7 linked regions of the Homo sapiens genome follow. The protein of the gene in region 7 interacts with the protein of the main gene of each other region in a pairwise test. Each region holds a gene or a part of one and is shown on either strand. Other genes may lie near its edges. The genes, in order: PKM, PPM1B, POU2F1, EDNRA, MAPK9, TCOF1 and ARRB1.

What was found.
Region 1: the proteins of ARRB1 (region 7) and PKM interact in binary tests that used the Homo sapiens proteins (3 or more experiments, as listed by UniProt).
Region 2: the proteins of ARRB1 (region 7) and PPM1B interact in binary tests that used the Homo sapiens proteins (3 or more experiments, as listed by UniProt).
Region 3: the proteins of ARRB1 (region 7) and POU2F1 interact in binary tests that used the Homo sapiens proteins (3 or more experiments, as listed by UniProt).
Region 4: the proteins of ARRB1 (region 7) and EDNRA interact in binary tests that used the Homo sapiens proteins (3 or more experiments, as listed by UniProt).
Region 5: the proteins of ARRB1 (region 7) and MAPK9 interact in binary tests that used the Homo sapiens proteins (3 or more experiments, as listed by UniProt).
Region 6: the proteins of ARRB1 (region 7) and TCOF1 interact in binary tests that used the Homo sapiens proteins (3 or more experiments, as listed by UniProt).

What each region holds. Positions count from the first base shown.
Region 1 is NC_000015.10:72,206,681-72,210,798, forward strand, and holds part of PKM (pyruvate kinase PKM), read right to left. Parts: intron 3,799-4,118; coding exon 3,667-3,798; intron 3,180-3,666; coding exon 2,993-3,179; intron 2,212-2,992; coding exon 1,941-2,211; intron 598-1,940; coding exon 447-597; intron 201-446; coding exon 48-200; intron 1-47. UniProt on the Homo sapiens protein: Catalyzes the final rate-limiting step of glycolysis by mediating the transfer of a phosphoryl group from phosphoenolpyruvate (PEP) to ADP, generating ATP.
Region 2 is NC_000002.12:44,171,443-44,175,560, reverse strand, and holds part of PPM1B (protein phosphatase 1B), read right to left. Parts: intron 1-4,118.
Region 3 is NC_000001.11:167,223,524-167,227,641, reverse strand, and holds part of POU2F1 (POU domain, class 2, transcription factor 1), read right to left. Parts: intron 1-4,118. UniProt on the Homo sapiens protein: Transcription factor that binds to the octamer motif (5'-ATTTGCAT-3') and activates the promoters of the genes for some small nuclear RNAs (snRNA) and of genes such as those for histone H2B and immunoglobulins.
Region 4 is NC_000004.12:147,479,511-147,484,201, reverse strand, and holds the start of EDNRA (endothelin-1 receptor isoform a precursor), read right to left. Parts: upstream 3,106-4,691; 5' UTR 2,826-3,105; intron 1-2,825. UniProt on the Homo sapiens protein: Receptor for endothelin-1. Mediates its action by association with G proteins that activate a phosphatidylinositol-calcium second messenger system. The rank order of binding affinities for ET-A is: ET1 > ET2 >> ET3.
Region 5 is NC_000005.10:180,232,650-180,236,767, forward strand, and holds the end of MAPK9 (mitogen-activated protein kinase 9), read right to left. Parts: intron 3,883-4,118; coding exon of another isoform or gene 3,878-3,882; coding exon 3,735-3,877; 3' UTR 494-3,734; downstream 1-493. UniProt on the Homo sapiens protein: Serine/threonine-protein kinase involved in various processes such as cell proliferation, differentiation, migration, transformation and programmed cell death.
Region 6 is NC_000005.10:150,364,089-150,368,206, reverse strand, and holds part of TCOF1 (treacle protein), read right to left. Parts: intron 4,095-4,118; coding exon 3,955-4,094; intron 364-3,954; coding exon 290-363; intron 1-289.
Region 7 is NC_000011.10:75,271,225-75,275,342, forward strand, and holds part of ARRB1 (beta-arrestin-1), read right to left. Parts: intron 2,988-4,118; coding exon 2,850-2,987; intron 1,755-2,849; coding exon 1,671-1,754; intron 501-1,670; coding exon 477-500; intron 1-476. UniProt on the Homo sapiens protein: Functions in regulating agonist-mediated G-protein coupled receptor (GPCR) signaling by mediating both receptor desensitization and resensitization processes.

The sequences.
Region 1 (4,118 bases), on a different chromosome or scaffold from region 7:
AGGCCCAGTCCGAAGCCCTGGGGGATGGGGCAGGCCCCAGAACTCACCAGGTGCTGCATGCGCACAGCCTCCAGAGGATAGTCCCCTTTGGCTGTTTCTCCAGACAGCATGATGCAGTCGGCTCCATCCAGGACTGCATTGGCCACATCACTGCCTTCAGCCCGAGTGGGGCGGGGCTTCTTGATCATGCTCTCCAGCATCTGGGAGGGGACAGAGCATTAGTGAGATGTAGCTTGAGCTGTCTTCAGAGACAAATGACAGCAAGCTGATCCTCTGGATAGTGAGTAGGTACACAGAGTATGGCTTTGTGTAGGTACATGGGGGAAGGGGATTATCTGTGTGTTACGTGCGACAATTCCATGGGAAGAGATCAGACAGCCTCCAGAGCTTTCCCATACAAACATGCGAGTGTGCACATGAGAATGTGGGGAAGGGTGGGCACATGCCTGAGTAGCACAGATGACAGGCTTCCCAGCTCGGTTGCACCGTCCAATCATCATCTTCTGAGCAAGGAAGACCTTCTCTGCAGGAATCTCAATGCCTAGATCACCACGAGCCACCATGATCCCATCACTGGCCTCCAGGATTTCATCAAACCTGATGGACAAAGTTGGGGGGAGAGAGGTTATATAGAACAGAGGCCACAAGTATGGCAGTAGACAAGAAGTTTCCCTGGGATTCCCTAACTTAGATGTCCTTGTACCAGGACAGACATCCATGATATCATCATGGGTGCACACAGATGGCAAGGCAGTCCAGCTACCTTAGGCCCCCAGAGTGGGCCAACAATTCTGCCTGCTGGGCTTCAACACCAATATGGATGCTTCATTGACGGAAGAAAGGGGAGAGGGCAAATCCAAATGGGCTCATTCCCAAGGTCTCCTCTCCAAATCCCATGCATGTTAGGGGTCTCTCTAGGGCCTCCATTTTCCAATCAGCACTTCAAGACAGGGAACCTGAGGCCTGATGACTGCTTCCACCACAAAGACCCATGGCCTCATCTAGTCAAGGACACTTGAGGACTGCCCTTTGAGGTGGCCCACTCCAACCTGCTGAAGGCAAGAGGGAATGTGGCTTTGCCTGGCCTAGGGCCAAGTTCAGCTAGCCTATGGCTTATCAGGATGGCAAAGGGGAGGACCCCAAATTGCCTGGTACAGAGGATATCTACACAAAGCTCAGACAGTAAGGCCACTACAGTGGGTGCACAGGGTTGCTCCCCCACCCTCCCCAAACACACTTCTAATCCACAAGAGTGTGTCTAGCATCTTAGTTGTGCTGAGTTGTATTCCTAGCAGGATGCCAAAAATGGTGGCCATGCCCACTGGGCTCTACTTTGTGAGCATTGGGGAGGGGGTAAGCTAAGTTGGGGCAATCTGAAACTGGAGAAGAACCACACATCTTCCTCTGAGAGTGGAATGGACCATACCAGAGTTAGCATGATCACTGAGCCAGCTGCATTCTAAGTGAAGACCAGGAGGCCATAAGCTTTAACATGGACACCAGGCCCTGAAATTCCACATGGCTCCCCAGGAAGGGCCAAAAAGAGCCCTTTCTTAAGTGTCTGCTGTCATCTTTCCCCCTGGTCCCCCCATTCCAGCAAACACTGGTAGTGTTTCTGATCAGGAACAGAACATCATGGCCCCTGGTCCTGTGAGCAGTGACCCTGTTCTCTCAAATGTTGGTCCCCAGGCCCAGGGAACAATGTCAAGCTGCCAGCATCTCAATTACCTGGGAAGCTTTTTTTTAAAAAAAACAAAAAAACAAAAACAAAAAAACATAATGCCTTCTACTCTCCTAAGATATTCTGATTCAGCAGGTTTGGAACTGGCTTGGGAGTCTACATTCTGATGGGCTAGGGGCTGGGAATCAGACATTCACAGGATGGACCATGCCCTTCGGAGAGCTGCGCTGGGACTGGAGCAGGGACAACGGGGACTTGCCTCCGAACCCCCTCATGATTCTCGATTTTGCTGATAATCTTGATGTTCTTTCCCTTCTCTCCCAGGACCTTCCTAACTTCATGGACATCAGATGCCTTGCGGATGAATGACGCAAACACCATATCAACATCCTGCTCGACCCCAAACTTCAGATCCTGGATGTCCTTCTCCGACACAGCAGGCAAGTCCACAGCAGCCCCAGGAAGGTTCACACCCTTCTTGCTGCCCAAGGAGCCACCATTTTCCACCTCCGTCACCAGGAAGTCGGCACCTGTATGAAAAAGGGTAAGTAGGGGAGGCAGAGCACGAGGGCACAGGTCAACAGGAAGCAGGCACCTTTCCCGCAAGGACAGTGAGCTGGGAAGTGGTGCATTATGGGTGCTGGAGCTGTTTTACCAGAGTTGAAAACCTACTACACTGTGTAATCCTGGGCAAGCCATTTAACCTCTCTGTACCTCACTTTCCTCACCCATAAATAAGGATAATTAAGACTGTTCTGACTTTGGGAGGCCAAGGCAGGCAGATCACCTGAGGTCAGGAGTTTGAGACCAGCCTGGCCAACATGGCAAAACGCCATCTCTACTAAAAATACAAAAAAATTAGCCGGGTGTGGTGGCGGGTGCCTGTAATCCCAGCTACTCAGGAGGCTGAGGTAGGAGAATAGCTAGAACTCTGGAGGCAGAGGTTGCAGTGAGCCAAGATCATGCCACTGCACTCCAGCCTGGGCAACAGAGCGAGACTCTGTCTTGAAAACAAAACAAAACACAGCGAAACAAATATATATATATATATATATATATATATATATATATATATATATGTATATATATATATATATGTATGTATGTTCCTGTGTTCTCCAGAACCAGAAGAATGTAACTATGCTGGATTAAAGCCTATCTTTGAGGATAAATGAGTTATAAAAGGGATTCCTGAGAACACACAGACTCAATCTCACTGCCAGGCAACCAACCTTCCCATCTTCCTTGTGTCAAGGAAGTTTAGAGACAAAAGACTGTTTTAGACAACTGGACTCCAGCTCCCATACGTACCTTTCTGCTTCACCTGGAGAGAAATAAGCCCATCATCCACGTAGATCTTGCTGCCCACTTCCACCACCTTGCAGATGTTCTTGTAGTCCAGCCACAGGATGTTCTCGTCACACTTTTCCATGTAGGCGTTATCCAGCGTGATTTTGAGAGTGGCTCCCTTCTTCAGCTCCACCTCTGCAGTGCCGCTCTAGGGACAAGAGAGTAAGCAAGAGTCCAAACTGGAGACACCAGTAGCAGCATCACCTCAGAAGGAATGGAAAAGCTCTTTCCTCCCGGGAACAATGCTCAAGTCACTGCTAAAAGTAATACAGTTTTTTGCTCTTATTCTCTAACTCTGTATACTTCACGGAAATAATCCAAGAAAAGAATATGTTTCAGTTATGCTACTTAATGATGGGGAAAAAGATACAAAGAGATGGTTCTCCAAGTTAGAAAGCCTAAAGTTTAGGTTTTTAGGGTAAAAAAAAAAGGTTCCTTTGTGGTACCATTTCCTAGCAAAGTAGATCAAATCAACATTGTTTACAGTGATGAATAAATCCTCATTTGTAGACCTCAACTCCTCTGCAGTCCTTCATAGTACTGGGAAGAAACATGGCAACCCAGCGCTTTGGAGGACATGTCTCTGGGGCATATTGCCTACTGAGCCTTCCCCTCGCTCTCCGCAGAATACTCACGCCCTTGATGAGCCCAGTTCGGATCTCAGGTCCTTTAGTGTCTAGAGCCACAGCAACGGGCCGGTAGAGGATGGGGTCAGAAGCAAAGCTTTCCGTGGCTGTGCGCACATTCTTGATGGTCTCCGCATGGTACTGGGGGAAAAGAAGGAAGATGACAAGCGTGCTCCCACACTAGAATCCAGCTCCAATTCCCCTGCCCAGGAGCCAAAGCTGATCACTCAGGAAAGGCCCGTGGATGTCTTAGAGCTCTATCTCCATCCTCAGCACGATCCATGCACTGAGAAATCCTCTACCTGCTTAATCCAACCTCCTCAGCCTCCACCCACTTCTACTACAGCACTAATTCACCCAAAGGGCAAATCTTTGAAATGTAGGTGGCAAATTTCAGAATATTGCCACCAAAACCCATTAAGGTATGGGTGCAAACATGTCTCATCATAAAAGCAGCTGTG
Region 2 (4,118 bases), on a different chromosome or scaffold from region 7:
GTTGCTGGTTAACAGAATGCAAGATCGTCAACGACAAGGATTTGGGATTTTGTCTGTTTTGTTCAGATACTGGCATGAAATGGGGGCCTTTGCACACAGAAGGCACTCAGTGAACATAAGAATTGGCTGGAGGGTTACAGACTAAATACTATTAGACTGTTCTGAATTCTTTACTTCTCAGTGGGTTGGTAGCTCAGAGTAAATAAAAGCAGAAAGCCTCCCAAAGCTCAACAAAATCTCCTATATAATCTTAACATTTGGAGTGCTTTGAATTAATTATGTTCCCCCACCCCCACTTTTGTTTTTTTTGAGACGGAGTCTCACTTTTGCCCAGGCTGGAATGCAGTGGCGCGATTTCAGCTGGGTTGAACCTCCACCTCCTGGGTTCAAGCGATTCTCCTGTCTCAGCCTCCTGAGTAGCTAGGATTACAGGCACATGCCGCCACACCCAGCTAATTTTCTGTATTTTAGTAGAGATGGGGTTTCACCGTGCTGCCAGGCTGGTCTCGAACTCCTGAGCTCAGACAATCCGCCCACCTCGGCCTCCCAAAGTGCTAGGATTATAGGCGTGAGCCACCAGGCCCAGTCATGTCCTCTTTTTAAGGGACTAAGAAAGGCCACCTGTGTTCAACAGAAAATGCCATTTCCCCACCTCAGAGATAAATGCTTTAGTCAGAACAAGGAAAAGGAAAAACACTGCCCAAATAGGTTAAACACCCATGCTGACACTTCTAGATTCTCCTACTCATAAGAACATCCAGTAACCAGCCCTTTTCAATGCGAGGAGTGCTCTTGATACCTACAATCAAGAAAATAAAATGCGATTAGATTTAAAAATGAGTTGACATTACTCTCAGGCTTAAAAGCGCTTCGCAAGCCTTCAAACTCTTACAAATTACTCTACATATTATTGATCAGAACTGCTTCTTCTCTGGCAAACAACACTTATTCATTTGTTTTATTTTCTTGTATATTATACGTTTGAATCTACCTGATAACATAACTGCATTTTAAAAGTTTTCTATAAAAGACAAGGTTTTTTCCTATTTCTAGCACACAAATGTACTTTTCATTCACAACTGATTCTGAAGTGAAGGCCATTCTACGTAGACAATAATCACAGCAATCCTAGAGACAAGTCTTATCCTCCCTATATCACTACCAGTAATTGGTACCATCTCTAAGAGAAAGACAAGTTCCTTAATAGTCAATACATGGCTTCCAAAGTTTGTCTGTCTCCTCTAAGTATGAGATCGGATTTAACTGGATCTTCTTTTGTTCACAAGGATGCAAAACAATTTTCCAAGAAGTGTTATGTTTCTAAACTTTAAGATTTTTAATTTTCAAGAAATGAATCAATTTAAAGCTAAAAAATAGAATACTGATGATACTTAAACATTCTCCAAGAGAAAAGTTTGAATCCATTTTATATTTACAAGTTAATATTAAACTGTGTGATAAATCAAAAGTTTTAAATTAGTAAAGTGTGTTTTAAATGTTATAAACCATGTCAAATGTATAATATATGAACTAACAAATTAAAATACTACAATTGATTAAGCTACAAGGTTCTTGAGGTTAAACAAGTTATTACAAAGAGTATTATTATTTTTGTTTCGAGACAGGGTCTCACTCTTTCGCCCAATCTGGAGTGCAGTGGCGTGATCTTGGCTTACTACAACCTTCACCTCTCGGGTACAAGCAATTCTCCACCACAGCCTCCGGGGTAGCTGGGACTACAGGCATGTGCCACCACACCCGGCTAATTTTTGTATTTTTTGGTAAAGACAGGGTTTCATCATGTTGGCCAGGCTAGTCTCGAACTCCTGACCTCAAGTGATTCACCAACCTCGGGCTCCCAAAGTACTGGGATTACAGGCATGAGCCACTGTGCCCGGCCATGAAGAGTATTATTATAAAAGGTATATGTTATGCCAAGCAATAACAAGATATTGTAGATGTGATTAGTTATAGTAAAACAAAAAGAAAAAAATGTATTTAAGCACTCTTCTGTGTCATGGTTTACCATTAATTCAGAAGTAAAGTGTTTATGGTTGTTATTAAAGTTAAACCAAAGGGGAGAAATAAAGCACCCTGTAATTTGAAGGAAAACTACGAAGTATGAGATCTCGAGGGGCAAAAAAGAAATGAAAAAAGAAAACTAAAAAGAAAAAAAGTATATAAGTTATTGTACAGTATTTATGTTTCCTAGGATGTTATATGTTACTAAAAACTAAATCTCAAAATCTTTAAATACTCTGAGAAATAAATACACTATATAGATTACACTTTTGGAAAATTTTGTAACATCATCAAGAATTTAGTAAAGGGTTCTTTTCACCATAACGCTGATTCCAGTATCTGGTCTGTTAGTCTTTTTTGGCCGGCCAGTACACCTGGCTAAATTCTGTATTTTTAGTAGGGACTGGGTTTTACCACGTTGGCCAGGCCAGGCTGTTCTCAAGTGATCTGCCTGCCTTGGCTTCCCAAAGTGCTGGGATTATGGGCGTGAGCCACCACGCCTGGCCACGCTTGTTAGTCTTCTAGGTAGTCTTTAAGAAAAGGAATATGGATGGAAATGTTCAAAAGTGTCAATCATCTCAAATCAAATGGACACAAAGAGATTAAGTCACATCAGAATTTTTTAAAAAATAGAGGCGTGGTTTCACTCTGTCATCCAGGCTGGAGCAAACTGGTGCAATCACAGCTCGCTGCAGCTTTGACCTCCCTGGCTCAAGCGATCCTCCCACCTCAGCCTCCCAAGCAGCTAACTACAGGTGCACACACCACCAAGCCCAGCTAACTTTATTTTTTGTAGAGACAGGGTCTTGCTATGTTGCCCAGGCTGGTCTCAAACAATCCATCTGCCTCAGCCTCCCAAAATGTTGGGACAGGAGTGAGCCACTGTGCCCGGCCTAGAAACATTTTACTTGTAAAGATTCTAAAATGGCTTTAGCATACTTAAATTAATCCAAAAGATGAAAACCCATTTTTTTAACTCAATGTATTGATGTAAGTAAACACCAACAAAAACAAAGAAAAAATACACATTATGAAGCTCATGTACCTTTTTCTTCACCTGTTCTTGTTAGATCAGCCACTAGAAGCTGATGATCAGTTCTGTCATTCTGCAAATTTTATGACAGCCAACTACAAACTACAAAAATTAAATAGTTCCCAAAACTCTATTTCACCATCAATGTTTGAGTATAGCATAGTGAAATGTCAGTACACTTAACCATCAATTCTGCTAATATACGATACATTTTACAATAAAACTTTAAAGCTGCTAATATAATAGCAGTATTCCATTTCATTCCAATTCTGAAATTAATTCAGCAAGGGAAAAACAAAAAGAAATCAGGTACAGTGTGAAGAATAACTGAAAATTCAGGAATATCATACTCCTGAAAATTATCTTACCATAATCATGATTTCACATTTTATGCTATTACTTGAATAAATTTTGCTATTATAATTTTGGATTAAACAAACTTTTATTATTCTGATGCCACCAGTTATTTGTTTGCTAATTTTTACTAAAATCAGTGAATTGTGAAAGGCATATTTCACAGAAAATATAAAATACTGTATGTTGCATTTTTAAAAGCGAGAGTTAGAATTATACTACTTAACTACTTTCTATGCTAGGTAATGTCACAAAATACTTTAAAATAGTTACATATAAAAATATTCATGAAATACAGCTTTTTTTTTTTTTTTTTTTTTTTGAGACAGAGTCTTACTCTGGCACCCAGGCTAGAGTGCAGTGGCACAATCTCGGCTCACTGCAACCTCCACCTCGTGAGTCCAAGTGATTCTCCTGCCTCATCCTCCTGAGTAGCTGGGATTACAAGCACGCGCCACCGCACCTGGCTAATTTTTGTATTTTCAGTAGAGATGGTGTTTCACCATGTTGGCCAGGCTGGTCATGAACTCCTAACCTCAAGTGATCCACACGCCTCAGCCTCCCAAAGTGCTGAGATTACAGGCATGAGCCACCGCACCTGGCCTATATAGCCTCTTTTTAATGAATCACCACAATCACTAAGTGATACCGTGGCCAATTCTAAGCTTCCAAGACTGCCAAGACATAATCAGCATCATATTTTAATTCA
Region 3 (4,118 bases), on a different chromosome or scaffold from region 7:
TAACTACTTTAAAACATTAATTATAATATTGCTTGCTGCAGTATGAATCAGCCAAAAAAGGCTGTATTTTTCATTAAGCAGACCACTAAAATAAGTGTACTAAAACAAGAAAACACCTAAGTCACTTTTCCATATAAAAATATATTCCCTTTAAGGTATCAGTGCAACTCCATTAAGGTAATCATATGTTTAAGCACAAATGAGTCGTTTAACACACAGCATATTGTTCATTTTCCAGCCATTCCTGTTTATATCTTCTATTGCAAAGAGAAAGTTCAACAGAGGGGGGGAAACCTGCCATAATAATTATTATTATTGATTTAATTTCATATACCATTTCTATATTCCAACATAAAAAGCATAAAGTTACAAAGAATTATGAAATAAATAATGTGATAAACTGCACTTGCTATGACTTTCAATATTGAAGACTTAGTAAAGCTACTACAAACACTTAGCTTTGTGGAATGTGAACATTGGCTGTTAAAAAAAAGTTAGTATAATGTATCCTCTCCGGATAAATGTCCAGGAGTTCCAGCAGTTTAAAAGAAATCTGGGCCAGGTGTGGTAGCTCATGCCTGTAGTCCCAGCACTTGGGGAGGCCACAGTAGGACTGCTTAAGCCCAGGAGTTTTAGACTAGCCTAGGCAACATAGCAAGACCCCATCTCTTAAAAAAAATTAAAAATAAGAGAAAATAAATGAATAAAAGATAATCTGATAAATCTAGAGGTTTGCTGATTCTTCTTTTGCTCAATTACTAGTCCTGTCAGCAAATGTAGGCAACACTGAAATCTTGAGTGCTTGCTTAATTGGAAATAAATAAATAAATAAATAAAACCCAAAAACAAAAGAGCTCTATTAGTCACTGAGTATACAAAGATACCAATGCTCAAAAAATTCACACCCCATAGTAAAAACACACAGAACCCCATAACCACATGCACTGTATGCAAGGAGCATCTTCAAATCAGAACTTCTGAAACTCAAGACAATTCTCATATTCCAAATTCTAAACATACTGTAAACGGATCAAGTAAGTCAGGCAATAGCTCTACTCAGGCTATTTTTGTTTCCATTGTTATTACTGCTGAAACAGTTTATAAGAGCTCATCACCTGTTTAGAACACAGAAATACTTCGGTACAAAACAAACCAATTTATTCCTAAGAAGAATTAAAATCTACAGTTATTCAATTCTCTTTACTTATGAAATGTCAATAATGCACAAAAATGTCCAGCGAAAGATGCATAAGGAAACTGCTATTCTCTGTGAACCTTAATTATTATCCCTTTCAACCACTCAAAAGGATATTTACATCCTTTAAGCAACACAGTAAGAAGTAAGCAAAATGGTGACTCAAAGTTACCCCAAAAAAAGGAAAAGGAAAAAATTCATGCAGAAAGGGTACAGAAATTCAAAGCAGATATGTCACTGAATCAAATCAACAACTTTCAACTCTAACGCCCAAGAAATAGTAAGTACATTTGCTCAGGCATTTAGCATTTAAGGAGGGATCAGAAACAAGAACATGGATAACCAAAAGGGGGCATGTTTTGTTTGTGACTTGGTCTGTTCCCTAAACGCAAATTACCTGAATAGTTCTAAATTCAAATGCAATCACTTTCATTAGGAAAAACACATTCCTGCTTAAAATCAGGCTTCATAGCAAGTCTTTACTAATCACAAAAACTGTGTAATTAACACAATTATATAAAGGCAAATTAATGAGTCACACAACATTATTTTTAATGGTGCTTGAAAGACTAATATGCAAAGATTACAACTATGGGGTTTCAAAATTAAAAAACAAAACAAAAATAACCGATAACAACAAGGCAATCACTACTACATAATATTACAGTCTTCCAAGTACAAAGGAAACATTCATGAAAATGAGTGACCAACTTAAAAAACACAAATAAATTCAAGATGAAGCAATACAGATTCAAGAAGCAGGTCAAATATTTCAATTTTTAATAGAAAATACTTAAAGATAACATTCAAATTTCCACTTCTGTTATTTCAGAACCACCTGCCTAAGATATTCAAGGGTCTATTAAACATCTTTGGTGGCTTGAGAAGAGCAACGTAACATTTTGAGCCCTGAACTTATTGCAAAATCCACTAACCAGATGAATGGCAGATTGACAATTACTTCAAACTAGGCAGCAATGAAACATATTTTATTTACACTGCTTTATACTACCTATTGATGTAGAGAATAGTAAATTTAAAATATGGCAGAACACTACACCTGAATTCATTTGAACCTGAATAATAGCTACGGTTTGTTTTTTCCTTGTCTACTGGGATTTTTGACAATGACAAAATGAAAGGAATTACAAACTAATTTGAGGGAAGAGGTTAAAAATTGCTTTTACGGTAATGGTTTGGAAGCAGAACAGTCCTTTAGAAATCAAAAACAGTTGGTCAGCTGTCACATGAATTTTCAAGACCTTGATTCAAAAGTATCATTGTAATTAATAGGTGGGAGAGTTAAGAAAGTGACAACGGGCTGGGCATGGTGGCTCACGCCTGTAATCCAGCACTTTGGAAAGCCGAGGCGGGTGGATCCCTTGAGGTCAGGAGTTCGAGACCAGCCTGGCCAACACGGTGAAACCCCGCCTCTACAAAAAATACAAAAATTAGCCGGGCGTCATGGCGCATGCCTGTAGTCCCAGCTACTAAGGAGGCTGAGGCAGGAGAATCACTGGAACCCACGAGGCAGAGGTTGCAGTGAGCCGAGATCGCACCAACGCACTCCAGCCTGGGAGACAGAGCAAGACTCTGTCTGGAAAAAAAAAAAAAAAAAAAAGAAGACAGTGACAATGGATTTCCTAGAAATACGCAGGAAACTACTTGACAGATGCAAAAGGAGACAGGCAGGTTATAAACTCATGTGGGTTCAAAAGTAACCTAAAATACTCTATCAAAATTGGATCACAAATTCAGGTTAGAAATAAAGCAATTTTATCACATTCTCAGGGAATTTTAATCATCACCTTAAAATAAACTAATAATTAAAAATATGAGAAATGTCTTACAAGAAAATCTATTAATATGTCAAAAATTCTAAGTGCAATCACTGTTGCAATGGAACAATTTTAAAATCACTAATCAAAACAAAATGAACAAACTTGTCCAGACTAAGATAAATCCAAAAAGAATTCTGAATTTTTTTTAAAAAATCTGTTTTAAAAGCACATGCTTTCCTGTGAGTATTCTACCTTATTTTCAACATTATCATTTCCACCTTAAAGAATACACAGCCCTCATTCTCAACTCTGCTTTATTCACTGAAATGGATTCTAAGGCAAATGGTCTCTCCATTAGCCTAAGCCATGCTCTGATTAAGAAACACAGTTTCTTATAAAAGTCTGGGGGATCACAACAAACATTTATATGGGTCACTTCTATGACTATCTATCTAAAACCCAAATACTCCATTTGAGAATTTTGAGGAAATGAATTTTTACAATAGCATTAAAAGTGAACCAAAATATAAGGCCAGTTAACAACATCCATCCTTTTCTGTATTACAAAAACTGTAACAGCGAAATTTTGCTTGTAAAATCCAATGTACATTTTATCATTTTGTATAAAATATCTACGGCCTCAGTAGTGATTAAATTGCAGCTATAAAGGAAATTGACCCGAAATAAATGGTTTCCCTATGAGAAGGCTTCACTGCTACACTTCACCTCAGGACAATAAATCAAATTAACTGCACCTTGTCCTCTGTCCAATGACATCATCAGTTTGACCACATCTTGGGAATCGGGTGCAAAAACATATGCTATTTAAGGCATGAAATTATATTGCTGCTTTTTGTCCATCTGACCTCATACTTCAGGTCTCTGAAGCAGTCATTCACCTGAAGGTTCTCTTAAAAGCTACAGATTTTTTTTTTTCCTGCTGCATTCAGGGCCTGCCTACTGTGAGTGAAAGAAGAAAAATGGTGAGAACTGGTTATCTGAAATTAGCTTGCGTTTAATCCATCAAACCTAGAATTTTGTTACAAATTAAACTGAAGACCAAAGTCCCACAAAATACATAGCTAGCCACTCACCAAAATGTCTTAACATAATTTCAAAGGTTTAACACATTAGTGTTAAAC
Region 4 (4,691 bases), on a different chromosome or scaffold from region 7:
AAGGAATAATCAAAGATAATTAAAAATAGCTCATCCTATTTCAATATTTTATATATTTCCTTTTCTGTAGGCTTTTATGAATCTTCAAATGAAGACATAATCTGATTTATGCGGTGGTGTGTGTACGTGTCTGTGATGTATATACCCAGGTCATAATTTAATCTTAAAAAAATTGAGTCCTGGTTGGGTGTGGTGGCTCATGTCTATAATCTCAGCACTTTGGGAGGCCAAAGCAGGAGGATCACTTGAGCCCAGGAGTTTGAAACTAGCCTGGGCAACTTAGTGAGACCCTGTCTTTACAAAACATAAAAAAGATTAGACAGGCATGGTGGCGTGTGCCTGTAGTCTCAGCTACTTGGGAGGCTGAGATGGGAGAATCACTTGAGTCCAGGAGGTTAAGGCTGCAGGGAGCTATGATCGAGTCACTGCACTCCATCCTGAGCAGCAGAGTGAGACCCTGTCTCAAAAAAAAAAAAATTAAATAAATAAAAAGTAAAAAATAAAATTGAATCCTTTTTCTGAGTGTATTCAAGGTTGATGTTAACCACTTTTAGGAATTTTGACAATTATCTTGGGAAATCAGTAAAGCTTAGGTTTGGCCAATACGTGGATAAAATAAGATTTATTCAAGTTGCATAGAAAGTATAGGGTATATATAAAGTGCGAGTATTGGATACTTTTGCCTTCCCCAGAGATTTCCCCCTGAACTCTGAAATAATAATAGTATTTACATATAGTAACTTATTATATATGTATCTGTTATCTGCCTTGAGCTTTACGACTCTAGGTAGGCAGGAGCAATATCTCCATTTTACTTATAAGGAAACCAGAGTCTTGAAGAAGTATTTAGGTCAAGGTTTCAAAGCCAAGAAATGGCAGGACACATAATTTTGCTTATAGGACTTGACTCACTCTGATTAAATGGGAAAAATATCAATTTTTCAAGGCTAGAGGCAGGCCATGTATTTGTCAGCTCTGACTAGACTTAATTATAAACAGTTTGCAGTTTTTTCCTGCTTCTTATAATCTGGAGTGAGTATCTGGCCAAAAATTGATAGACCTATGAAATGACACCATTTCCATTCCAAAGGGAACACCAGGACTCCAAGAGAAAAGCTTCTTGTCATCCTCCTTTTTGGATCACAGATACAGGGGGGAGAAGAAATACTTTCATATCTTGTGCTGTTTCGTGACTAACGTCTTCCAGCTTCCCAAATGAAAGGGAACCTTCAATAACAGCTTTCTTAAAAATGAGAGAGAGAAGGCCTTTGCAGAAATGGAATGGCTCTCTGCCGGTTACAGTCGGCTGGGAACTGACCTGTGAACTGACCTGGCTACGGTGGGTACTGCTCTACTCATCAGAGGTCCTGTGGTGCTTTGAACGTTAGCATGCTGGTCTGCTTGGTTAGCTGATTATGCCAGGAGGTAAGGCCAACGCTGTGGGTTCTTAAGGCATGAGAGCCAGCTATCATTAAAACCCCCTTCCTTCCTCCTCCAACAATGACACCACTACAGAAATCATTTCTGATGACTTCTCTATCAGCTCTCCACACATGTTAAGCTGCAAAACTAAGGGATACTTGGCAAAGGCCTGTGGATGTCATATTATCATTGGCTGAAAAGTACAAAACCAAATGAAAGAAGCCCCTCAACTGCAGGTTCTTCCAAGGTGGGTCTGTAGCTCATTTCCAGGAATCTGAGTCAGGCTGTGCTTTGAATCATCACTCATAATCAGTCATAGCGCTAGTGAAGCATCTCAGGTTCAGACCTGAAGGACATGGTCTATAGATTCAGCATTCTTCCTGTTTGGAATCTGAGAGTTTGGGGAGTGCAAAAACTATTATTAAGAAAGAGGACTGAATCCTTACGCTTACACTTTAACCATTTAACATATGAGACTCTCAGGATCAAAGTTCACCTGTAATTGGTAATTTGGAAATTCAGACCTTATCAAAATGGCATGAGTTTAGAGCATTCAATTTACATGAAATGACTGCCAAGGTGTTTCTCAATTAGCTAACACATAGACAACTACAGGTGGAGGAAAAAACAAGTAAAAGTAGGAACTTTTTACAAGTTTTCTGAGGTTTTGCTCTCTGGTTAAGAAATGAGCAACTCTCCTTAGAGACAACGCCTGAGTTTAATATGCCTCCCACCCCCAACTCTATCAGGGGAAAGCCATTAGGATGATGTAAACAGAGGGTGATTATCTAGAAGCAGCCCTTGTTTTCTGCACGTGAGAAGCAACAAGTGTCCTTTAAAGGCGAGCACAGAACAAAACGCCCAGACCTCCACAGGCAGGTTTCCAAAACTAGCTACACAGGGGGTTTCCCCAAACACCTCAGTCCCTCACACCGAGTGCCCTTGGCTACCCTTGGCATACCCAGACCCAGATGTGGGGGAGGAAAAGCAAGCCAGTAAGAAAAGGCTGTGGAGCCAACTTCACAAGAAGGCGCTGGAGCAAGCCACAGAGCTTGGCGTTCCTCAAAGTTCTTGCATGCCTGGGGAAAAGGGGTCACCCAGGGAAAACTATTGGGCTTCCTCTTCCTAAAACTCCGAATCCTAAACCCTAACGTGGAGAGGTGAAGTTCCCCGAACTCTACACGTGTCCGCAGCGCACCCCTCACGGAAGGCGCCCGCCTCCCCGCGCGCCCTGGGGCAAGTGGGTGCCAGCCCCTGCTGCGACGGGTCGCCCAAGCTGCAGGGCGGTCGGGCCAGAACGTTCCCAGCTCTCGTCTTCTCCCGACCGAGGGGCCCAGGCAGCGTCTCCGCCATCCCCGCACCCGCCCCAGTCCCAGTCCCCGATAAGAAAGACTTGCACCGACCGTGGAGCTCGGCGTGCGCAGACAGCTGCCGGGTCCGCGCGGCGCCTGGGCCAGAGGAAGCCGGAGCCGGCGAGGGTGGGTGGCGCGGAGGGTGGCCGGTGTCCCGGGCTCCGGCGCGGCGGCGGCTTCGGCTGCACAGCTTCCCCGGCTTCAGAAAACCTCCTGGGCACTGCTTCTCCCGGGGAGGTCTCGCTGGGACCCCAATCCCCGGCGACGACCGGGTGGGATGGATGAAGCCTCTCCACCGCCTCTCCACAATCGTCAGACCAGCGGGATGACTGTACGCGCGCGCGAGGGCTCGCACGAAAAAGAAAACTCCGGAGGAACACGCCTCCAGTCTGTCCTCCCCGTCTCCTCCCAAAGCTCCAGACCTTCCACTCCACTCTGGGACCGCAAGAGCGTCCTAACCTTCCAGCTATCCTGGGACGCGGCCACTAAAAAGCACAAAGCTGCCGCCCCCTTCCAGGCCCTGAAGGGCAGGAGTCTTTTTTAACTATTTCCTTCCTGAAAGAAAAGGTGGGGGATGTGGAGGAGAGAGGGTAGAGTTTGACAGACAAGACTCAGAATTCCGAAAGGCCTTGCAGAGGAACCCATCCTCTTAGTGCAGGCAGATTTGATCTGTGACGGAACAACTGGACACAGAGCCAGGGCCCACGGGTGGTTTCTTCTCCGTCTTCCCTGCCGCCTTTGCTTGGCTTGCGTGCTCCCTCTTAAGCTTAGAGGCCGTTGAGGAGCCGAAGTGGACAGCAGTTTACTGGATCAGGTGGTTTGCTTCTATCTTGTCCCTTGTAGCCAGCATCCCACGGCTACAGACCTCCAGCCCAGGGCAAAGAAGGAGCCTCAGGAGAGACTATGGAAGGTTCCAGCGCGTGGCTCCGTGAAACCTCAAGAAATTCAAACAATGAAGAAGCCGACCTTACAGAAAGTGGGTCTCAACGTCTTTATCACGGCAGATACTTTATCCTAAATTGGGGGTGGGAGAGGAGATGAGGGACAAAGGCCACTGCCTGTGACATGTGAGTAAAAACTGGGGTCTCCTCAGGGAAGGCCTGCCTTGGAGTCCTTCAGTGCACTGCTAGAGTCAGCACATGGTAGAAGTGTGAGGTTGGAGCACTGGTCATGTTATATCCCATGCTGTTCCGGCTATCTGCTGCAGCTAAACAAATTACTATAAAACGTAGTGGCTTAAAATAACAACACTCATTTACTCTGCTTATCAGTCTGCAGTTTGGGCAGAGCCTGTCTGGGACAGCTCGTTTTTGCTCCATGTAGCAGGGGCTGGAGGATCCACTTCCAAGACAGTTCACTTGCTTGGTGTTGAGTGTTAGTTTTTCTCCACGTGCGTCTCTCCACAAAGACTTGTGGAGACTTGTGGTTTGGGCTTCCTCACAGCATGGTGGCGGGGATCCAAGAGTGAATGTCCCCAGAGACAGAAAGTGGAAGCTGCCAGTTTCTTAAGGGCTGGGCCCAGAAACTGGCACCGTGTCATTTCTGCTTGATTCTATTAGTCAAGCAGTCACAAATCCCAGATTGAAGGTGAGGGTATATAGAGCCCAACCCTTAGTGTGAGGAGTGTCAAAGAATTTAGGGACCATTTTGTAAAACCATCAAAGAGATCTACAGAAAACCACCATTGAAAGAGGCCTTAATAGTCATCTAGTAGGGTTAGACTAGATATTACCCTGTTCACTAATCTTACAGCTTCTCTAGGAGGGAGAATCAGCCAACCAGAATAACTAATAGCTTTTATAAGTGCCATTGTTTATATTAAAAAAAGGTGACCCTTTGGGCATGTGGCTTGGCAAGCTGACAATATTTTCGGGAAAGAAAAACTTACTGCTTCCTCCCAAAAGAGGCAGTTCACAT
Region 5 (4,118 bases), on a different chromosome or scaffold from region 7:
AGTGAAAGAGGGAAGAGGGAATAGGACAGAGAAATGGAACCCAGACCCAGACCCCAGTATCTCAAGAAACATCTTCCTTCTTTCAAGACCTTTGAAAACACAACTGGGCCGGGCGCGGCGGCTCACGCCTGTAATCCCAGCACTTTGGGACGCCGAGGCAGGCGGATCACGAGGTCAGGAGATCGAGACCATCCTGGCTAACACGGTGAAACCCCATCTCTACTAAAAATACAAAAAATTAGCCGGGTGTGGTGGCGGGCACCTGTAGTCCCAGCTACTCCGGAGGCTGAGGCAGGAGAATGGCGTGAACCCGGGAGGCGGAGCTTGCAGTGAGCCGAGATAGTGCCACTGCACTCCAGCCTGGGAGACAGAGTGAGACTCCGTCTTAAACACACACACACACACACACACACACACACACACACAGCTGGTACTCATCTCTCTGGAATGCTTCTAGTCCTTTTAAGCAGAGAAAAGAAAGTGAGCCACTGAGTGTCCTTCCACTCCTGTGGTATTAAGTACTAAACAGCCTGAAGTGCTTCAAACACAGACGTCAGATGAACTTGGCTCATCCCAGGCACAAAGCCACAAGCACCATGAATGACGTTAAGTAACATGACTAAGGCTGACTGGTGAATTCTCCTGGCCACGCCTCATGAGAAAACAATTACACCAATACTCTGAATTGGACCTGCATATTGGTGAAGTCAAAACTTACTGCCATTAGTTTTGAAAACACAGATTTAGGAATTTGCAGAATATTTTCAATAAGAGAACAAACAGCAATGTTTCTGCCTCTCAGTGTGAAACCTCTTGCTAATATTGATCAAAAGCATGACACTTTATCATCTATCTGTGTTCATGTTAAATCTGTCATCAGAGATGGTGATGGAGAAATATCTAATTGCCATGTAAAAACACACAAAAATTGGACATGCTATACATTTATCTTTTAAAATGTAGTCTGTATTATTTTCACCAACCAAAACACACATAATATATTTTATTATAAAACATTAGCAATGTTACTTTTGAGATATGCAATCTGAAAGGTCACACTTGTATTTATTACCAGGAGGAAATACCAGAGGAGTCACATTAGAAATCAACCAGACAGACTCGTACGTGGTTATCGCTACTTACACAGCATTAAATGCGGGTTGAAGCAGCACCCGCTCCGTGTTTCAGACACGGACTTGGGGTGGGCAAGGGGCCCTGTAAGAGGGCTTCCTCCTCTCAGTACTGGGGCTCTGCGTCTCACCTGCTCCCATCTCCAGGCCCACGGCTGACACGGTATGCACAGCCAGGGTTTCCAGACTGCTCTCCTGCTCTCACAGAACTCTGTCTGCTCTCTGGACTCTGCCCTTGAAACTGAGACCTGGACATGGGGGAGACAGTCGTTTCCTTCTTGGCTGGAAACTAAGTCAACAAATGAAACAAACCTAGTCTAAATTCCAGGATAATAGTAAATTACCTGGTTTATAAAAATACATGTCCAAAATAGTTACTTCCTGGGTTGTGTACAATATAAATTACAAAAATAAAATAGAAAAGATGAAACAGTTGAGCACATTTTTCAGTTCTTTAACCAACATCAGCATTTATCCATAGAGATCAGTTTGAAACCATTTGCGTGGCACCAAGACCCTGGCAAATCTAGGCTCAGGAGAGAGAACCCTGAAGCTGGGGTGAGGTATTTCTGTGGAGCCCTGTGGCCTGTCCTAGGCACGCTCGCCTCTACCTGGTGGAAGATGGCCTTTCCAGGAAACCCTCCACACCGTCACGGGCTCCATCTGTGGCAAGTGGCTCGCTGAATGCACAGAGGAGCGAGTGAGCAGAAGGGCGTCTGCGGGTGCCTCGTCCCCCGTCCACGTCTCCCGGGGAGGGAGCATCACACAGTGCAGGGCAGCTCGCGCATTTTCAACCTCTCCCTTTTGTTTTTCCTTTTAAAGATAGATTTAGTGAAGTCTTTTAAAAGAAAGTGTATTACAGAGAAGGCCATTTTAAGATGTTTAGATAGATAGCCATAAAATAGGTGTTTCCGCCTCAATCCAAGTTATTATTACCATTTTGTACTTGAAAGTGTCCAAATGACACAATATAAAAGAACTATTTCTTATTTCAATATTAATTTTGCTAATCAAAGGTTCCAGTTTCCAGTGATATGACCAACCAATAAGATATAACTGGTGCAGAGAGAGCCATATATTTTACATAATATTTATAATAAACTTTCTTATCACAGTTCCTCCTCAGAACACACTCTACAGAATGTCGACTGAAAAGCTTCCAAAATAATTGAACACAAGATATGAATCAGCAACAGAATAAGCTCAAGGGAAGAGACATGGGCACAGGCAGGCAAAACGTGATCACCACAGCTCCGTTCCTGCAGTGACACTTAACATACTCAGCATCTTCATGAATTCTGAATAATTTACTGATCGTAAAGTCTAAAAGTATCAATTTCAGGTGAGCAGTTTTAAATCAGAAAATAGTCAATAGTTAATCATGACTCTTCAGGGTATTTCCTTCACGTCCTCTGAAGAGTTTCCCAGAACATTCTTGTGAAAAGGAATGCCTCCCAACAATGGAGAGCAACAATAGCAACAGGCATCTGAATCAGCCTGGCCTCTGAAAACAGACCAAAGAGGAGTTTATCTGCTTTCTTCCAGTGAAGAAAGAAAATCAAGAACGTGGTATTGGCCGAGGGAAAGTGAATGAGGGAAGGTAAATAAAGGACCCAGGCCAGTCTGTGGCAAAGGAAGCACTTAGGAAATGACTGCAGTGATCTCTAGTGAGCATTTTGTAAAATTCCACTCCAACGTTAGGCCATGGATGCAGGAACCTATCTGCCATCATATTTAATTAAGATGGAGTGTTACGCACCTAATAAAGAAGGTGAAGTTCTAGGTAGCATTTTAAATTCATAAGAAGTCTAGAAGACCAAGAAGAAAAGAGATAAGGTAGCTAGGATTTCAAGCAGCACTAAGCAAAACTTAAAATTGTATCGTGCAGTAAAGCTGAATGTACAATCATCCCAGACAAGACAGTTTAAAGAAAACAAGATGTCCACATAAGTGTCTTGGTTTTAGCCGTGATAATTCTCAGCCCCAAACATCACAAATCTAAGAAAAGCTATATATTTTTATTTATTAAATAGATTTAATTATATGTCTTCTGAAATACAAAAGATAGAATAAATCATAGCATAAAAGGGAATAAGATATGATAACATCATGATGGCCAATTAATACACATAAATCGACTTTTTCTGGACAGACACCAAATTACTTAAGAGGATTAAGAGATAACTTCAGAAGCAGCACTACCTGGAAGATTATTTGGCATTTAAATACTGATTTCCAAAGTGCTAGATGGGCAAGTCCAAGCAAGCATTTGTGGTCACATGCACATACATCTCAACAGTTACAGATGATGAGAAACTGTCACTAGTACAATTTGAAACAAATTCACCTACTCTAACTGCTCACCTGAAATGATCTTGAACAAAATCTCTAGAAGTGTGGCTTGCAATTTTTTTCTTCAGACATATTCTGCCTCATTTTATCATCTAAGCAGGCAATCCTATCAGGTCTGAGTAGGGCAAGGCATTGTGTTTCTTACATGCAGAACATGGAGTTTTTCTATTTGGTTCCATCAACTCCCAAGCATTTCAGGCCCACGGAGGTGAGAGTTCCTTCAATGCTGACAGGTTTGCTATTTCTAACCTATCATCGACAGCCTTCAAGGGGTCCCGTCGAGGCATCAAGACTGCTGTCTGTGTCTGAGGCCAGCGTCTGCTCAGTGGACATGGATGAAATGTCATTGATCGATGAAGACTGAGAAGGAGTGGCGTTGCTACTTACTGCTGCATCTGTGCTAAGAAAACCAAATATAATAAAATCTGAGGCACGACATTGCTGCAAATCCAGGCAGCGAGACTGCAGGCCATTTCTCGGCTCTGTCCTTTTGCAGTTTCCCAATCCTAACTATGAGTATAGACAAGAAGTCAGTCAGCTGGACTTTCTGAACTTTTCCTTGAGTCTTTCTTTGGGCCAAGAGTCCCATATTCCTATGTCTTTCCTTGCAAGATTCTTCTTTTTTTCTCAGTAGCT
Region 6 (4,118 bases), on a different chromosome or scaffold from region 7:
TGAGTGAACGGGTGAACGCAGGCATGAAAGAGGAAAGAAATCGCCTACCCCAGGTGTAGAATGTGCCCAGTGGCCCACTGCAGCAGGCATCATCCTTATCTTTATAGAAAAGTAAACTGAGGCCCAGAGAGGTGAAGGGACTAAGATCCCACAACTGGTGACACAGGTTGAGCTCTGAATCCAGGTGGGGCAATTACTCACAACCCTATCCTTCTCTGACATGTAAGACTGTCCCCTACCAGGCACCTTAAATCCCATAGGCAATAGCTTGGAAGGCAGTCCCACTCACCTTGGCTTTTTCTTTCATGCTTGATGGCAAGTCCGCCCCCAGGACTGAGGAGTTGGTAGATGCTAGTCTTGGGGCTGCAAGAAACAAACATCTGCTAAAGGAGCCAGATGAGCTTTTCTCATCTATGAATGGCAAACAGGTTTCATCTCACCTAACAATTCTATTGGTATTGGCTGCCTGGTGCTGGCATGAGGATCTGAGGCTGAGCCCAGACTTGCAGGAATGAGCTCTGTGATGCATCAGCCAGGTCCACCAGGAGCAAGAGAGAAGAGGATGGTAACATGAAGCTATGTGTCTGCATCCTTGATGGATTCCCAACTCCCCCGCAGCATGAGACGTGGAGGCCCCTGGAGGGAAAAGGACTGGCCCACATTCTTGCTGCCTACTGGGCACTGCACACTGCAATGGGCACCATTCACACAGGCCACCACACTGTAGCCCTGAAAGCTGTTCGGCAAGAAGGGGCAGTGGTCAGGCAGGCAGCCAGCCTCAGGTCCACAGAGAAAGTTGCCTGGAATTCAAATGGCTTCTTAGTGGAGAGGTGGCTGAACCATGCCACCTGGGCCCCGTTAGATATCGATATTCACTGATTCTCAGTGCTTATTTATTTACTGGGACAGAGTCCTGCTCTGTCGCCCAGGCTGGAGTGCAGTGGCACAATCTCGGCTCACTGCAAGCTCCGCCTCCTGGGTTCACACTATTCTCCTGCCTCAGCCTCCTGAGTAGCTGGGACTACAGACGTCCACCACCATGCCTGGCTAATTTTTTGTATTTTTAATAGAGACGGGGTTTCACCGTGTTAGCTAGGATGGTCTTGATCTCCTGACCTCGTGATCTGCCCACCTCGGCCTCCCAAAGTGCTGGGATTACAGGCATGAGCCACCGCACCCAGCTTCTCAGTGCTTTTATACCAGGGTATTGTCTCCTTAAATCTCAGATTTCTTTTTGTTAAGAAGAATGTTGGGCCGGGCGCGGTGGCCTCACGCCTGTAATCCCAGCACTTTGGGAGGCCGAGGCGGGTGGATCATGAGGTCAGGAGATCGAGACCATCCTGGCTAACAAGGTGAAACCCCGTCTCTACTAAAAATACAAAAAATTAGCCGGGCGCGGTGGCGGGCGCCTGTAGTCCCAGCTACTCGGGAGGCTGAGGCAGGAGAATGGCGTGAACCCGGGAAGCGGAGCTTGCAGTGAGCCGAGATTGCGCCACTGCAGTCCGCAGTCCGACCTGGGCGACAGAGCGAGACTCCGTCTCAAAAAAAAAAAAAAAAAAAAAAAAAAGAAGAATGTTGCTGAGATGAATGGCATGATCTAATTCTTTTCCTGGCACTTCACTCCATCTCTCTCTTTCTGTAATTATGGAAAATTTTTAAGTAGTAAATAGAAAGGAAGAACCAGGCAGCTCCAACCATTAACAACTTGTGACCAATCTTTTCATCTCATGTATTATCTCACTCACCCTTCCCCATCAAGCATTACTTTGAAGAAAATGCCATAGATCCTACCACGTTGCCCACAAATACTTCAGCATGTTTCTCTCTCAATGAGGATGCGTTTTTAAATTTTTTTTGAGACAGGGTCTTGCTCTGCTGCCCAGGCTGGAGTACAGTGGCACATTCATAGCTCACTGCAACCTCCAATGCCTGGACTCACATGATTCTCCTATCTCAGCCTCCTGAGTAGCTGGGACCACCAGTGCATGCCACCATGCCCAGCTAATTTTCTTATTTTTTGCAGAGACGGAGTCTCACTATGTTGCCCAGGATGCCAACGAGGACTCTTCTTCCTTTTTTTTTTTTTTTTGAGACAGTCTTGCTCTGTTGCCCAGGCTGGAGTGCAGGCACAGTCATGGCTCACTGTAGCCTTGACCTCCTGGGCTCAAGTAATCCTCCCACCTCAGGCCTCCTAGGCAGCTGAAACTACAAGCACACGCCACCATGCCTGGCTAAATTTTAAATTTTTTGTAGATACAGGGTTTTGCCATGTTGCCCAGGCGGGTCTCCAACTCCTGGGCTCAAGTGATCCTTCTACCTTGACCTCCCAAAGTGCTGGGATTACCGGTGGGTGTGAGCCACCATGCCCAACCCAGTGAAGACTTTTAAAAAAATAAAATTACATACCCGGAGGCTGAGGCAGGAGGATCACTTGAGGCCAGGAGTTCAAGGCCAGTCTAGGCAACATGGCAAGACCTCATATCAAAAAAAGCCCCAAACAAACAAACAAAAAAATGTAATTACACCTCCATTATCACAGCTTATAAAATTGATTAATACCAAATAGCCAATCAGTAAGAAATTTTACCATTTGTGTTTCAAATAGCATGCAGGTCTGTATATATGCATGTAAGAATACATGTTTGAATGAATATAGAGGCAAAGGAGGAAGTTTTAAAGGTTACCTATGAGGAGATGCACTTAGGAATGATAGGGAACAGGGTAGGACAACAAAAAACCTTTAAGTTTTCTTCTATATGCTCTTCTACAGTTCAAAGTGAACTCGTTTTGCATTTATAATGTAAAATTAAGCGATATATAATATATATCCAGGGCGCAGTGGCTCATGCCTGTAATCCCAGCCCTTTTGGAGGCCAAGGTGGGCGGATCACCTGAGACTAGTCTGGCTAACATTGTGAAACCCCGTCTCTATTAAAAAAAAAAAAAAAAAAAAGAAAGAAAAAGAAAACCCACAAAATTAGCTGACAGTAGTGGTGCATGCCTGTAGTCCCAGCTACTCGGGAGGCTGAGGCAGGAGAATCACTTGAACCCAGGAGGCGGGGGTTGCCCTGAGCTGACATCACGCCATTGTGCTCCAGCCTGGGTGACAAGAGTGAAACCCCGTCTCAAAAAAATAATAAAATATATACCTAGTATGATCTCAAACACTTTAAAAGCAGACTCAGGAAGCTGGGCATGGTGGTATGTGCATGGAATTCCACCTACTCAAGAGGCTAAGGCAGGAGGATCACTTGAGCTCAGGAGTTCAAGACCAGCCTGGACAACATGGCAAGACTTTGTCTTGAAAAATAAAAAATAAGTATTAAGAAATGTGTCTTCTATGTAAGCAAAAGAAGATAATACGATGCAAAGGAGACACAGCAATTCCTCTGTAGAGTTATGGCTGCTGTTGGGGAAAGTACAAGGAGCCCTGGGACCTTAGGAGAAGAAGGGGCTATAAAAGCTTTGACTGAGTTACTCCTGCAAACGGTGTAAAACCAGTGCCCAGTACAGCGTTCCAGTGCTAATGGGTACAATTCTAAATGAACATGAAGATCAGCAATTCCTAAAGCATCCCACAGGTCACACAGAAAATGTGTCCGCTAGCTGCTTTCTGAAATCCCTCCAGCAGTACTTCTGAACGTGTGTCTTCTTTCCAGCTAATAAGAATCACCTGGGAGCCTGTAATAGGGCAGCTCCTGGGCCCCATACACCAAATGAGACTGGAAGGGCCCATCTGGTTGTTTTGGTTCGGCCTTGCACCCCCAGAGCATGGAGATATAATGCCTGGCACGGAGGAAGGGCTCAAATACTGCCAAAGATATGTGGTGCCCTCCCAATCTCCTCCCCAGGGTCTTTTAGGTCTTCTAGTGATAAGAGAAGAAGCTGGAGGTAGACTCTACCCTAGAACAATCAATATTCCATAGCCTGTTCCCAAAGCTGCAAGGCTCTTACTGGCTTTGGCGGTTTCGGCTTCTGCTTCTTCCTCCTCTTCCGAGCTCTCCGAGGTGCTGATGGGGTCTGACACACGGGTTTTCTTAGCTTGCAGTGCCGCATCTTCCTCTGCCTTCCGCTTCCGACCAAGCTCTGAGGTTCTGCAGGACAAGGGTGACTGTCTA
Region 7 (4,118 bases):
CCAAACTGCTGTGTTTGGGGTACATGCATTTTTGGAATATAAGTGCATCCAGCTGGCTGCAAGGAGACCTTGTTTACAAAATAGGATCTCCTGAGGACCTCTCCTTAGCAACACTTGGCCAGCAGTTCCCTCCTCACTAGTGTAGAAGTTTGAAAGCCATGAAGTCTGCATTTCTCCAAAAGCTCCTATAATTCAGGTGATCAGTAATTCAGACAGCTCTCTTGGGGGCCACTCCCTGTATCAGTGTAATCAGGCTTTGCTCTCTGTAAAGATCCCTGTCACTCAGGTGGGATGGAAGAGCAAGGTGAGGTTTGTTAAGGAGAAATTGTGTCTCCCAGCTCACACCTGAACCTGGCTATCTGAAATGACCACTAAGATTCCTTCCAACCCAGTGCCCTGTGATTCTGGTCAGTCAAGCCAATGGGCTCCAGGCCCTCCAGGAAGGTGGGTGAACCAGGTGGAAGGGAGGAATTTACCTGGATGCAAGATCTCCCAACAGGCTGGGTGGGTCAGAGGAGGCAGGAGAAGTGGTCAGGAGAGAGTTCAGAGAGGAAGAAAACAAAAAGCACATTCATTCACCACTTCTGCTGTCCCCCGGATAGAGAAGACCCACGGGACACACTCCCACCCACCCCCCTGCACAGCCCTGACTGCTCTTTCAGGGATACACCGAAATGGCATTAGCCCTGCCCCGAGGGACTGGGATCCAGACCCAGCTCAGCAAACCCCTGAGCCCCAGGATCCTCATCTGTCAAGGCAGTGTAAAAATTAACCCCAGTGCTGCCTGTCCCAAGGGAGGCCGGACTATCTAAAGGCAGAGGGAAGGACTCCGGGGTTGCCAAGAATGTTTGAGGGACTGTGGGTCCTGAAAGGTCACCAGACACAGGATTTGGGATTTGTAATTTTGAGATGTCCTATTATATAAGGTCAGGATTACATACTGCCACCTGCCAAGAGGCATTCTTCTAATAATCAAGGAGACCCAATGTCTAATGGGATTTAGCTTTTCAATCTTTTCATAGAAATTTATGAATTAAGTTACAAAAAAGAAACACAGTAGTTTGTTTGTTTGTTTTTCTCCCTGAGCTTCCACCAAACTATGCTCCAGGGCAGGGCAGTCTGGTCCACCACTATGACCTGAGTTAGGAGAGGAGATTTCAGGCAATGTTTGGGGCACTGTCTGGGCCTCTGTTTCACCATCTGTAAAATGGGAAAGCTGACTAGCAAATCCCCAATCCAGCTCTGGGTTCTGAGCCCTTTTAGCTGTTTCCTCAGAAAATCAGCTTGGGCATGCATGGGGGTGGGTGCTATGCCCAAAGTGTGATAAGGAGATGGCACCCCTGGGGACCCCACAGCAAAGACTCTGAGGACGCCGTCCCCTGGGCATGGCCAATCCTCAGTGCGAGCCCAGACCTAGGATAGAGGAGGAGGAGAGAGAGAAAGAGATGGGTGGGGGTAAGAGAGGGGCTGAGGGCCAAGGAAGGAAGAGAGGGAAAGCGGGCGGGGGAGAAAGAGGAACAGAAGGGAGGAAAAGAAGGGACAGGAGGTTCCTCCTCCAAGGTGGATGCAGCTAAAAGGGCTGCAAACAGGCAGAATGGGGCAGGGGCCTGTGGGCACCTGGGACGCTCCCCTCTGCACTCCGGGGTCTTGGGCTTGGCTGGAGCACTCACCCGCCCCGAGACACCACCAGCTTCACTTTCACTTTGTAGGAAACAATGATCCCCAGGATCTCACGGTTGGCACCTTCCCTCAACCTGCAAAGTGACACAGGGGAGCCAGTTCAGGGGCCTTGCCAGGTGGGCGAGACACCTCAGGGGTGGGTATGCTGGGGGGCAGTGGCCGTCCATCCCCCATCTGGCTAGCCACTCAGCTACCATGTCCAATAGAGCCCAGTGGAGATGAGGAAGGCGAGCAGTGCCCTTAGGTAGCAGGGACCCAGAGCCCCGGTTCCAAGTCTGACTGTGAGACTCGCTCACTGTGTGGCCCTGCTGAGCCCCTCTCCCTGCCCAGGCCAGCGTCCCCGCCATGAGGGCCAGGCTCCTCCTCCCCTCAGATGGATTCTGCTTCTCTCAGCAACCCATGGGCAGAAAGGGCCACACGGGGAGTTCACAGAGGGCGAGGCAGCTGGGGTGGGGTGGGGTGGGGGCCATCAGAGAAGGACTTCTCCGCAGAGGTGGTGCTTCAGCTGGGTCTTGAAGATGGGTAGGGTGTGAGCCAGGGTGGAGACAGGGCAAAAAGCTTCAGGTAAGTGGGAGGCTGTGCAGGGGCTGCTGAAGAGAGCTGAGTCTGTGCTGGGAGTGGCGGCTGCTCTAGACGTAGGCCAAAGCCCCACTGAAGGACCACACTGGCAAGAGGGCAAGATGGCATCCCCATAGCCAGGGCTCTGCTGGAGCAGAGTAGCCTAGAGGCGTCCACGATGACTGTGCAGCAGGAGTGACCAGATGCCCTGGGACCCCTGACTTGGAGGGGCACCCCATGTTGGGTCTAACCCAGCTCACCACCCTGGTCTCTCCTCAGGGACACCCCATCTGACTGAAGGCATTACGTCAGAAGCTGCCACCTCTTGCAGGAAGCCTTCCCAGGTTGCCCTCCCCCAGGCATGGTAGCAGAGCCCAGCACTGCCTGAGTGAGCTGGCCTAGTGGTCCATCTTATTCTCTCAGTCACCCCTGGGTAGGGTTGGGAGTAAGGAGGCAGCTTCCCTGACAAGTCAAGCACCTGAGGACAGGCCCTGACAAGGCTATGGAGAGGGTAGCCTGAGCCTTGTCTTTGAACTGGGGGGACCAAGGAGGGTGTGGCCCCATCAGGCAAGATGCACTAGGAGCCCAGGGCTAGGAGGGCAGGTCCTCACAGGGTGCTAGAGGCCAAGTTCGTGTCTTCGTGCTTGAGCTTCCCGTCCAAGGCGAGGCCCCGCTTCTCTCGGTTATTGGCTAGGAAGGGGGTCAGTGTGTAGACCTTGCAGAACGTCGAGCTGGGTGCCACAGTGTCACTGGGAAGAAAGGAAGCAGCTGTGGAGATGGCCCTCCCCAGAGCCAACCCCAGCCCTGATCTCCAGCCCAGCAGAATATCTAGTCTGAGCCTGCTCCAAGTCTCCCTCTCCCAACCTCTGTCCCCCAGACACACGGACCACTTGGGCCAGCCCAGCTCGGGCAAGGAGACCACTGCCACTCAAAAGAGGCACATCTACATTCTACGCACAAACAGGACTGAATCTCGGATATTCTAAAAGATTATCCTAGTCAAGCAGCACAGTGCTAAAAAGCACATTTATTTAAAGAATTACAGCCAGCCGGGTGCAGTGGCTCACGCCTGTAATCCCAGCATTTTGGGAGGCCGAGGCGGGTAGATCACGAGGTCAGGAGTTGGAGACCATCCTGGCTAACAAGGTGAAACCCCGTCTCTACTAAAAATACAAAAAAATTAGCCGGGCATGGTGGTGGACGCCTGTAGTTCCAGCTACTCAGGAGGCTGAGCCAGGAGAATGGCATGAACCTGGGAGGTGGAGCTTACAGTGAGCCGAGATTGCTCCACTGCACTCCAGCCTGGGTGACAGAGCAAGACTCCATCTCAAAAAAAAAAAAAAAAAAAGTACAGCCACAGCAGGCACAGTTGCTCATGCCTGTAATCCCAGCAACTTGAGAGGCTGACAGGAGGATTGCTTGAGGCTAGGAGTTTGAGACCAGCCTGGGCAACATAGCAAGACCCCATCGCTACAAAAAATTTTAAACATTAGCCTGATATGGTGGTGCACACCTGTAGTCCTAGCTACTTGGGAGGCTGAGGCAGGAGGATCACTTGAGCCCAGGAGTTCGAGGCTGGCTGTAGTGAGCCATGATCATACCACTGCACTCCAGCCTGGGCAACAGAGTGAAACTCTGTCTCTAAACAAATTTAATTTAAATTTATTTTATTTTATTTTATTTTATTTTATTTTATTTTTTTGAGACAGAGTCTTGCTCTGTCGCCCAGGCTAGAGTACAGTAGTGCGATCCTGGCTCACTGGAACCTCCACCTCCCAGGTTGAAGCAGTTCTCCTACCTCAGCCTCCCAAGTAGCTGGGATCACAGGGGCGCGCCACCATGCCCGACTAATTTTTGTATTTTTAGTAGAGATGAGGTTT